Linked DNA regions of Homo sapiens: region 2 is linked to region 1. The links come from fine-mapping of genetic effects on gene expression. A gene starts in region 1. The other region holds a variant in brackets. All regions are shown on one strand. Distances are from middle to middle.

Evidence for each region. PIP is the estimated chance that this variant, and not a neighbour inherited with it, causes the effect.
Region 2: its variant is fine-mapped to the expression of KLHL6 in whole blood (TOPMed, PIP 0.92). The same link has a PIP of 0.9 or more in spleen.

What each region holds. Positions count from the first base shown.
Region 1 is chr3:183,552,818-183,558,195 of GRCh38, forward strand. KLHL6 (kelch like family member 6) reads right to left here and starts at 2,889. Exons shown (of 7, transcript NM_130446.4): 1 at 2,544-2,889. The coding sequence starts at 2,836.
Region 2 is chr3:183,490,020-183,495,397 of GRCh38, forward strand. It overlaps KLHL6 (kelch like family member 6), which reads right to left. Exons shown (of 7, transcript NM_130446.4): 5 at 4,060-4,262; 6 at 2,475-2,688; 7 at 1-2,209. The coding sequence ends at 1,908. Among named protein-coding and RNA genes, the nearest start is that of SNORA63E, 39 kb to the left of the region's middle. The variant T/C (reference allele first, on the strand shown) is at 3,165.

The sequences.
Region 1 (5,378 bases):
ACACAAAGCGAGAGAGTGTGTCAGATTTAACGTCAGTCCTAGGTCTAAATCCCAGCTTGGCTACTTTTTATTTGCTGTGACACTCTGGACTTTGGCTCACCGTCGGTAGGCTGGGGATAGGACTCCCTGCCTTGTCAGGTTGTTGTGAGGGTGGAGTGGACTAGAGTATGTGATACAGAAGCTACAGGGCCTGGCCCACAGTAAGCGCTCCACAAACAGGAGTTGATAGGAATAGTAGCACCGGAAGAAAGAATCCTGTCTCCAGGACAGTATTCATTGTAGAAGGAAAGTCACGTTGAAAATCCCAAGAGAAGAAGCAAAAGTCACTTCTCTGAAGAGAAGAATTGAAGGAATTTCCTCTCATGACCAGGCAGTTTTGGGAGAGGCTCTGTATACACAGTCAGATGCCTTCACCCTCATGTTCTCCAGCTTCTCATTGCCGTTGCCTCCTCTGACGACCGGCAGAGACTTTCCCTAAGTATCCTGGATCAGCAGGGCTGGAAGGACCCAAGCCCAAATTCCCATTTAGGATGAGAAACCCAAGAACCAGAGAAGACCAGTGATCAACTCGAGGGCACACAGCCAGCGGGCCTGGTCCACAGCCAGGCCAACCCGCTAACAAAACTGCTTCCAGGTATGCATTTTATGATAGCAAGGGATACAAAAGGATCAACCTAAATGTGCGTCCCCAGGGCATTGAGCTAACTTGACTTCACTCACTCCTGAGAGGGGCTGCAGTCAACGTGAAAGCACGTGATCAAGGTTGGTGGAGAAAGTAATGTGTTTATATCAACCCATTTTGATGGCTGTGTTTACACTTTATATTTTACACACTTCCCATGGAATGAAGTCCCAGACCTAGTGGCAGCTTGCATTGCAGTAACAAGGATTTCCAGAACATACCCAGTCCCTGCTCCAGCAATGACCAGATATATAATGCTGAGTTTTCATTTCCTCATCTGTGAAATATCAGCCACCTTCATCATGCTGTTACAAAAATAAAATCAGATAACTATGTCTGTCTGGCACACAGCAGCCACTGCTTCCCTCAAACCCAGATATCCCCTTGTCTTATCAACACAGGAGACCTAATGAGTCCCACAGCAACCTGCTGATCCTGCTCTATGAATTACAAAGAAACGTTTCCCCCCAAGCACCTCAAAAAAAAAAAAAAGAAAGAAAGAAAACGCTTTCCATAATACTTTCATAGGTTAATCGTTTTCAATTTCCTCAGCCAGAATCAAGAGTTAAGAAGAATCTCATTAAGAAGAATTCTAAGGGTATTTCTTTTCAAGTTCCCAAATACTTTCTTCATTATCCACATTGCCCTTGCAGGCTGGTTCCCCCATGTCCATGCTGATATGGAGAACACTGGATCAGGTGTATTCACTGGGTTCCCAGCGCTATAAAATTCCTACCCCAGGGACGTGCTCATGGGAAACACTCAATAAGTCATCCTTAGCTGAATCAAGCAGAATCAGAAAAAGAATTCCAAGAAAGATATATTGAGCATCTACTTACTATATGCTAGACACTGTGTAGGACCCTTTTCACGCTCTTGTTTAATTATGACAGCCCTGAAAGGTGATCATCATTGTGCTCACCTTACAGATGATGAAACAGACATTCAGAGCACTTTGTGACTTGCCTAAAGTTTCACTGTCAAGAAGGAACCAAGTCTCCTGACTTCAGGCCTTCCCACTATGAGATCACCAGTTTATCGTAACTAGAGGCCTCTCCCATCTAAAGCATCTTTGTAACTGCTTTCCCTTTCCCCACACTGCCTACACATAAAGAAGCCCCTAATTTGTAACAAGTCATTTGACAACTCCAGAAGAGGGGCCACATCCTTTTTCTCTATGTCTGTTGATTAACAAAGACAACATTATGTTTCCAACACCAGTCAGACCAAGGGGGAAAAAAGTCCCCATGACTTCAGTAATTTTCCATCCTTTGGAACAAGGAAATATACACAAAAGGTTTACTATAGAATGTAAGCATTGCTTTTAAATGATGCCAATCTCTCTTTTAATGTGGCCTAAATCCTAAAATTTAAAGTGTGATAAGCCGGGCGCAGCGTCTCACACCTGTAATGCCAGCACTTTGGGAGGCGGAGGCGGGTGGATCACCTGAGGTCGGGAGTTCAAGACCAACCTGACCAACATGGAGAAACCCCATCTCTATTGAAAATACAAAATTATCCGGGTGTTGTGGTGCATGCCTGCAAATCCCAGCTACTCGGGAGGCTGAGGCAGGAGAATCGCTTGAACCCAGGAGGCAGAGGTTGCGGTGAACCGAGATTGCGCCATTGCACTCCAGCCTGGGCAACAAAAGCAAAACTCCGTCTCAAAAATAAATAAATAAATAAATAATAAAATAAAGTGTGATAGTGTCCTTTCTTATATTTTAAGTAGACACACAAGCCTTAATATATATGTAAACCATAAATATCATGGCCAACTGTTCAAGATTGGGCTCTCACACTAACACACCTCTTCCTTGCAACTTGCACCCAATTTGACTCTGGTCCTAGGCATGCTGACCTGAAATAGTTGCTGGCTGCGGCAAGCACCACGCGGTGGCAGGAGAATTCCTGAATGTCCACACACAAGATGACATCTGTCAGAGCGTTTTCCATTCGCAGGGTTTCCAGGCCATTCTGAAGAATTAAGGAGAGTCCCGCGTCGTCAAATTTGACCTTTTCCCCATTTAAGATCTCGACCAAGTCTCCTGTTTTCTGGGAGGGCTCATCTGTAGAAGGTGCCAGGGGCCCTTCCAAACTCTTCTCGACCACATCACCCATGGTCCAGGCGCCCCTTTGTCCTGCCATCAACATCGAGACTGAAGGAGCGCCCAAGTGTCAGGCAGGCCCCATTGCAGGAGCTGAGCGGATTTCCTGTGCAGGGCCCTCCACTTATCACCAGCTGTCACACACACATAACAGGAAGTCTCGCACTTTCTCATCCTGTTACTACAAATGCCAGCAACTTCTATTCTTCTTCTTTCTGTGAGTAATCACAGGGTTAGAAATTACTTAGAATAGGTGTGTGGGAGGGGGTTCTGGAAGAGGAGTGTCCTCTCAGAGTCCACTGTGAGTGCTGTGTGTTTATTTTGGTGCATCTCCCACCTCATATCCGTGAGCAGGAAGCCTCCGGTGGTGGCTGTTACATTTGTACTCCTAATGCTATCAATAACCCAAGTCGTCAATGAGGGGATGGACAGGAGACAGTCTATAATCCTCCTGCTTCACATTTGTACTCCTAGTGGCTCAATAACCCAAGTCGTCAGCGAGGGGATGGACAGGAGACAGTCTATGATCCTCCCACTTCCTCCTCCCAGGAGTCTGAGACCCCACAATGATCCAACAACCGTGCTTTGTAAACCATGGAAACCCCACTTATCCCTGACATTCTCATTTCTGGCGGCACTGCAGATCGTCTATCTTCATCCTCCTCCCTACCCAGGGGAAAACAACGTCATGGCAAACTTTCATGTCTTCCCCCACCAAAAAAAATGTCTATTGTTTCGAATATGCTTTGGGGGCACAGAAGAAATGGTTTCCAAAACTCCATCAACAGCATCTTCTCAGAGGATGAGTCAGGGTGGGTCTACACCGAATTGCCATAGCACGTCTCAGATTAGCCCAACATCTACTGACCGTGCATCTAACGGTGGATCCTGAAGTATTTTCATTACCTCTGCATGTCTCAGTTAAGTAGTAATAACTGTCATTATTAAAATCCCATGATATCCTGGGGAAGTTATAGGAGCGTATCAGTTAGCGTTCTCTCACGCCCAACAGTAATGCTTTACCAGGTTGCTAGGTATTTCTTAGCCCAGCAAACTTGACATCTAAAATTAACCATTACAATTACAGTCATACCCAGCATAATGATATTTCAGTCGATGATGGACTCCAGAGAGACAGAACCAAAAGGATACCTAGAGAGGCATAGCAGAGGGAAATTATTAGGGGAATTGGCTCACGTGATTATGGAGACTGAGAAGTCGCATGACAGACTGCTGAGAGCTCAGTTCAAGTCCAAAGGCCTCAGAACCAGAGAAGATGGTATAACTCTCAGTCCAAAGCCAAAGGCCTGAGAATCCAGGGGGTGGGGAGACTGGTGTAAGTCCTGAAGTCCAAAGGCAGGGGATCCTGGAGTCCTGTTGTTCAAGGCAGGAGATGACTGTATCCCAGCCTCAGGAGATAGAGACATCGACCTTTCTTCTGTTTTTGTTTTCTCTGGGCCCCTGGCTGATTGGATGGTGCCCACCCACACTGAGAGTGTATCTTCTCTACCGAGTCCACTCAGACTCACTAATCTCTCCTGGAAACAACCTCACAGACACGCCCCATGGTAATGCTTTAACAGGTTGCTAGGTATTTCTTAGCCCAGTAAACTTGACATCTAAAATTAACGGTCACAAGTACAGTCATGCCCAGCACAATGACATTTCAATCGATGATGGACTGAATATACAATTGTGGTCCCAAAAGATTATAATGGAGCATATAAAGAAACCTGACGGCCGGGCGTGGTGGCTCATGCCTGTAATCCCAGCACTTTGGGAGACCAAGGCAGGGGGATCACAAGGTCAGGAGCTCAAGACCAGCCTGAGCAACATGGTGAAACCCCCATCTCTACTAAAAATACAAAAATTAGCCAGTCGCGGTGGCGTACACCTGTAATCCCAGCTACTTGGGAGGCTGAGGAAGGAGAATCGCTTGAACCCGGGAGGTGGAGGTTGCAGTGAGCTGAGATTGTGCCATTGCACTCCAGCCTGGGCAATAAGAGCGAAACTCTGCCTCAAAAAAAAAAAAAAAGTCATGGAAAAATAATGCCATTCACAATGGTAATAAAACATATGTAAATGCCTAGCAATAACAGCAACCAGCAACATAAAGAAAACTAACAAACTTTACTAAGAGTTTCGAAAGAAAACTTAAATAAATATACCAAGTTCCTTTATGGAAAGACTAAATATTATTAAAAGGACCAATTCTTTCCGAATACATTTATAGGTTTATTTTACTCTAATAAAAATTACAAGAAAATTTGGAGTTTAGGTTTGTTTGTTTGTTTGTTTTTGAGACGGAGTCTTACTCTGTTGCCCAGGCTAGAGTACAGTGGTGCGATCTCAGCTCACTGCGACCTCCGCTTCCCAGGTTCAAGCGATTCTCCTGCCTCAGCCTCCCAAGTAGCTGGGACTACACGCATGCACCACCACACCTGGCTAATTTTTTGTATCTTTAGTGGAGACAGGGTTTTGCCATGTTGGCCAGGCTGGTCTTGAACTGCTGGGCTCAAGCGATCCACCCGTCTCGGCCTCCCAAAGTGCTGGGACTACAGGCTCACACCACCGCACCTGCCCCAAGT
Region 2 (5,378 bases), 63 kb before region 1:
CTATGTTGTTATCATTGTTGCTTTTTAAATACAGCATATGAAACAGGATCTCTTAACCTGTTTCTCCAGCTTGGGGATTAGAATGAATTTCCAGTGAGCTCATTTGAAAGCTGTAGCTCTTACAGTGAAGGACAGATTCTGTTCTTTAAGTCACAATTGAGCTACACTGATCAAAAAACCAAGTAGAAGTGCTTTTTAAAAGTCTTGAAAACGAAGGCTTCAGGAGGATGGGGTATCAGGAACGTGGACCTAAATCACTGTGTAAAAACTAGAAAGTGTACCATCAAGGAGAATCTGTCGCTCCTGTGTAGGCCAGCTGTGCTCAGGTGTTTACTTTTTTAATAAAACAGTAGTTTGAGTCTCTAGAGACATCTTGTCTATATTGCAGTACAACTGGTGAACACTAAGAGGCCAGGGCACCAGAATGTGCTAAAGGTACAATTCTGTCTGGCAATGACAGTTCCGGTCCAAAATGGGCCATCTTATGATCATTTAAAAAAAAAAAGACCGGGCCCAGTGGCTCACACCTGTAATCCCAGCACTTCGGGAGGCCGAGGCGGGCAGATCACAAGGTCAGGCGTTCAAGACCAGCCTGGCCAAGATGGTGAAACCCCGTCTCTACTAAAACTACAAAAATTAGCCAGGCGCGGTGGCAGGTGCCTGTAATCCCAGCTACTCAGGAGGCTGAGGCAGGAAAATCACTTGAACCAGGGTGACAGAGGTTGCAGTGAGCCGAGATCATGCCACTGCACTCCAGCCTGGGCGACTTCATCTCAAAAAAAAAAAAAAGAGGGTTTCAATGGGAGGAGGACAGAACACAAGTATTTCATCTCTTTCAAAGCAAACAGGCCTTCCCAAGCCCATCCCCCAGACCTTTCAAGTGGAAGAACCTATGAGATGTTCTTGGCAAGGAGCCCAAATGACTCCTTGGTTTAAATATTGGTAAAGGGCGGGGACGAGGGAGGATGCAGAATAAGAAAGAAAAGGAAAGAAAGCAGGAAACACCTTTATTTCCCTGCTGTGCTGAGTGAATCTTTTAGCAGACTTGCCGAAACAAGAAATGAGCCAGGTTTCTTTGTTTTTGTTTTTGTTTTTGTTTTTGTTTTGAAGACAGAGCTTCACTTTTGTTTCCCGGGCTGCAGTGCAGTGTGGCGATCTCGGCTCACTGCAACCTCCACCTCCCAAGTTCAAGTGATCCTCCTGCCTCAGCCTCCTGAGTAGCTGGAATTACAGGCGCCTGCCACTGCACGCGGCTAATTTTTGTATTTTTAGTAGAGACGGGGCGGTCTCACCATGTTGGCCAGGCTGGTCTTGAACTCCTGACCTCAGGTCATCCGCCCGCCTCAGCCTCCCATAGGGCTGGGATTACAGGCGTGAGCCGCCACGCCCAGCAAGAGCCAGGTTTTGTTGTTGTTTTTTGTTTGTTTTTCCTGCTCTGAGATAGGCAGCATGGTGGAAAGAGCATTGACTTCGGAGATGAAAGACCTGGATTTTAGACTCCTGGGGTAGCTACTTGCTATCTGAGTGATCAGGGGCACGCCACTTAGCCTCTGTGAAACTTGGTTCCCTCACCTGTAAACTAGAAGTGATAAGAGCCAGTCACCAGGTTAAATGAACCGATAAAAGGAAGTGCCTGGCACAGAAGCCGGCATAGGGTGGGTGGGTCCTGAATGCTAAATATTACTCTTCCTCGCCTCCCCTCCTGAGGTAGGTCATGCAAACATTCCTGGCCGGTCTCAAGTGACCCCAAACTGTGACTTCCAAGGTTCCCCCAAAGTGAGTCAAGGGGATCCCCTGATGTATGGCCTCAAACTCGAGCCTGCTGCCTGAAGTGGGACTGGAGGAGGGTGAGAGGTGAGGCGGGTACGCTGAGGGTCGGGGGGGCTCTCCAGCTCCCCATCCTGCCGTCAGACAGACACTGCTCCGGGCACGATCCTGCGGATGTGGGTGTACGACTTCCTGATGGTGACGCTGCCGTGGTGCGACACGCCCCGGGGCAGGACGCACTCCTCTGTCAGTTTCTGGGCCTCGGGGTCCCAGCACAGCACCGTGGCGATAACCTCGTTCTTCTCGTCCCGCCCGCCGGTGATGTAGAGCCGGTTGTTGCAGGGCGCGATACCGCAGCTGGCCCGCTCGTGGCTGAGCTGGGTCACCAGGCACCAGCTGTCTTCCAGCGGGCTGTAGGCGTACAGCGCTCTCATGGCCCCACCTGAGGAGAGGGAGGAAACACGGTGGGCATCGCTCCATTTTTCTGGTTTCTTCCCTCTTAACCACTAAAATTCAACTTCTGATTAGGCCAAGTCTACCCTCTTGCCAAGAGAAACAGTCGATTGATGGCTCTCCTGAAAGCCAGAGTGGGTCCTAGGGGCAGTGAGTTGCCAGCGCTGGAGACACCGCGACACACCGTTTACGTGCTGCAGCCAGGCGCTCATCAGGTTCTAAGCCATTCAGACCAATAAGAAGCCATTACTCACCAACGACATAGATGCGGTCCCGGAAACTCACTGCATTGATGCATTTAGCCTCCACGGGCATGGCCGCCTTCAAACTCCACTTGTTGGTGGAAGGGTCATAACACTGAGTCTTGTCTGTGGCCAGTTTCCCATTGGGCCCTCCCCCGATCACATACAGCTTCTTCTTATGGCTGGTGGCTGCAAAGGAACTGACATGGACAAGGAGGGGTGCGGCCTGTAGAGGCACAGGGCACAAGAAGAAGCTGTCAGTCATGCTGCCCAGATTGCTGCAGTAGCTCCCAGGATACAGGACAGAGCTCCGGGACACAGAACTGGGCATCTTTTGCCTATAGTCACAAGGCCCATGGGCTTGACTCCTCTTAAGACACAGCAAGAATGAAAGCATGCATTTCCCACCCTCCCTCCAGGCTCCACGCAAGCTAGAGCAAGCTGTGTGTTGGGATGTGCCAGCCTCTCCCGGAATCCAGCTCTCAGGCAAGAATAAGTTTATACAGATGAAGTCAGCCAGTGTGGGAGGAAAATGATGTTTTATACATGCATATTCATATTCATTCATGTGCTCATCCACTCGAAAAATATTTATGGAATGCCTACTATGTACCAGCATTGATTTTCCTTGGTGCTTATATCTAGGAAGAAAAGCTGAAACGGTGGCCACAGGTAAGCAGACTCTTCCATTATGGGGCAGCA[T/C]TGAGGATTTTGAGATTAAGTCAGACGTGTGCTTCTATCCTGTGAACCCCAGGACAGTAAAGGAGACTTCCAAGAGCCTCTTGCCCATTTATTTACAGGATCCTTTTAGATCGTGGAGCAGCTCTGTGATAGGGCTTGTTTTGAGAAGATCCTGGGCATGTCCCCCATACATGTTAAGGGCTCTCAATATAGCACTTTTCAGGCTGACAGTCTTGGCTAGATGTGGTGACCTGGCTACCTTTGCTTGTGCCTACAATGACTGTGTTGTACATTCCATTAAGCTGGAACATGCTTGGACATCTGATCTGATAAGGAGAAAGAAAATTTGAAACTGGGAATAACCTGGAAATGAGATGAGGTGGCTTTTCTTTTCCTGGGTCTGATATATACCTGAGGTTGCATTACTAAAGTCTGACATGCAGGCCTGTAAGTGGCTCATCATCCATGGGAAAATAAAGAAGGGATGATTTCTAACATGACCAAATCACTCTGGGTTCATAAACGGTGTAGTAAAGTGATCCGCATGTGTCCAGTGTGGAGAAGAATAGGAGAGAAGGCATCTGAGGAGACAAGACTCTACACCAAGACATGCAGACCAAGAGATCTCCCATCTAAGGACAGGGTGAGCCTCTGTGCACATCTGGGGTTCTGTCCAAATTAGGACAGGTGCCCACACAGACCTTCACCACTTGGAAGGACATTGTTTCTGTGACTTGATCAGCAATACTGAAGCAATAGCTCCTAGGAGGAGGGAAGCTCAGAGCCACCAAAACTGTTCTCCTTGGAAGTAAAGTGATCAGAAAGCTGACCACCACGGCAGGCACGTTCCAAAGCTTTTTAAAAAAGCACTGAAGTAATAATACAGGCAGTTACTGGTAGAAATCGTGTCCTATACCTCTGACCAGCAGTTGTGAAAGGGGTCGTAGGTCTCCACATTGTTGATTCTCTGTAAGCCGTCAAAGCCTCCGATCACATAGACCTTGCCACCCAACACCACCATCTTATGCCTCCAGCGGCCTATGTTTAAATACTCAATCTGAATCCACTTGTTGATCGAAGAATTATATTTCCAAACATCATGCTGTGTTTCTTTGCCACCTGCAAGAGATACAAAGCATTTAAGAAACCATCAGATGTGTCAGAAATACAGCTTCTCCCATAATATCCCACATGTCCAAAAGTGCCAGGTCCCCAGGCCAGCCCTACCCTGAGGGGAGATACAAGAAACCCAGCAGGTGTGTGATGTCTGGCAGGGGAGATGAGGCAAATGCAGGGGAACAGGGAGAGACAGAATGGATGATGTGCCACACTGTGTCATGTCCACCTCAGTGCTGCGAGAGTTCAGAGAAGAGGTGGCTAAGTGAGCAGTGCCCTGAGAAGGCTTCAGGGGGCAGGACCCAAGCCAGCCTGGGTGGGTAGGGACCAGAGGGAGCCTGGACTCAGTGTTTGCCCTCACAGGGAGCAGGAAGCAAGGCTGGGCGGGGACAGTGGGGTTTGTGCAGAAGGCAAATTACATGGCAGCTTAAATTCTATGTTTACTTTTTATTTAAACCAAAAAGCAAAGATACAGACCTGGAAAAATCACTAAGAAATCCTACAACATTCTCCTGGTTTGTCGCTCTGATCTGTTTAAAACAATCAGTGGGATTTATCCTATTTCTAAATAATTTTTGTTATAAAAGTATGAGATGCTCACAATAGATCATTTGAGAGTGATCTGGTAAACATTTTCTTGAAGGCAACTCTCTTAAAAAACAGAAAATACAAAATTCAGCAGCTGGGGAAAGAGACAAAGACAAAGGAGAACTGACTTTTTGGGTGATTTTAATCAAATATTTAACAGCTTTGTGTTTCCATTTTCCCATCAGCATAGACTACCACCAACTACTTAAAGCAAAGATTTACTTTTCAGACTTACATGTGTGCAATAGTGGAGAAATGAACATTACTGACCACATTCTGTGTCAGGGGTGTTTCTCTAGCATGGAACCCAGAAGTGGGTTTACTAAGTCAAAGCCATGTGCACCCTGAATTTTTATAGGTGCAGCCAAGGCATCCTCCGCAGCTGTGGTGGTTGACTTTTCCTCATACCCACTTTTTGTTGGTGGTGGTGGTTTTGTTTTCTTTCTTTTATTTATTTATTTTTTTGAAGTCTGACGGAAAAAAACTATGTCAGTTTGGTTTTCGCTTACTATGAGGGAAGCTGAGCTTCCT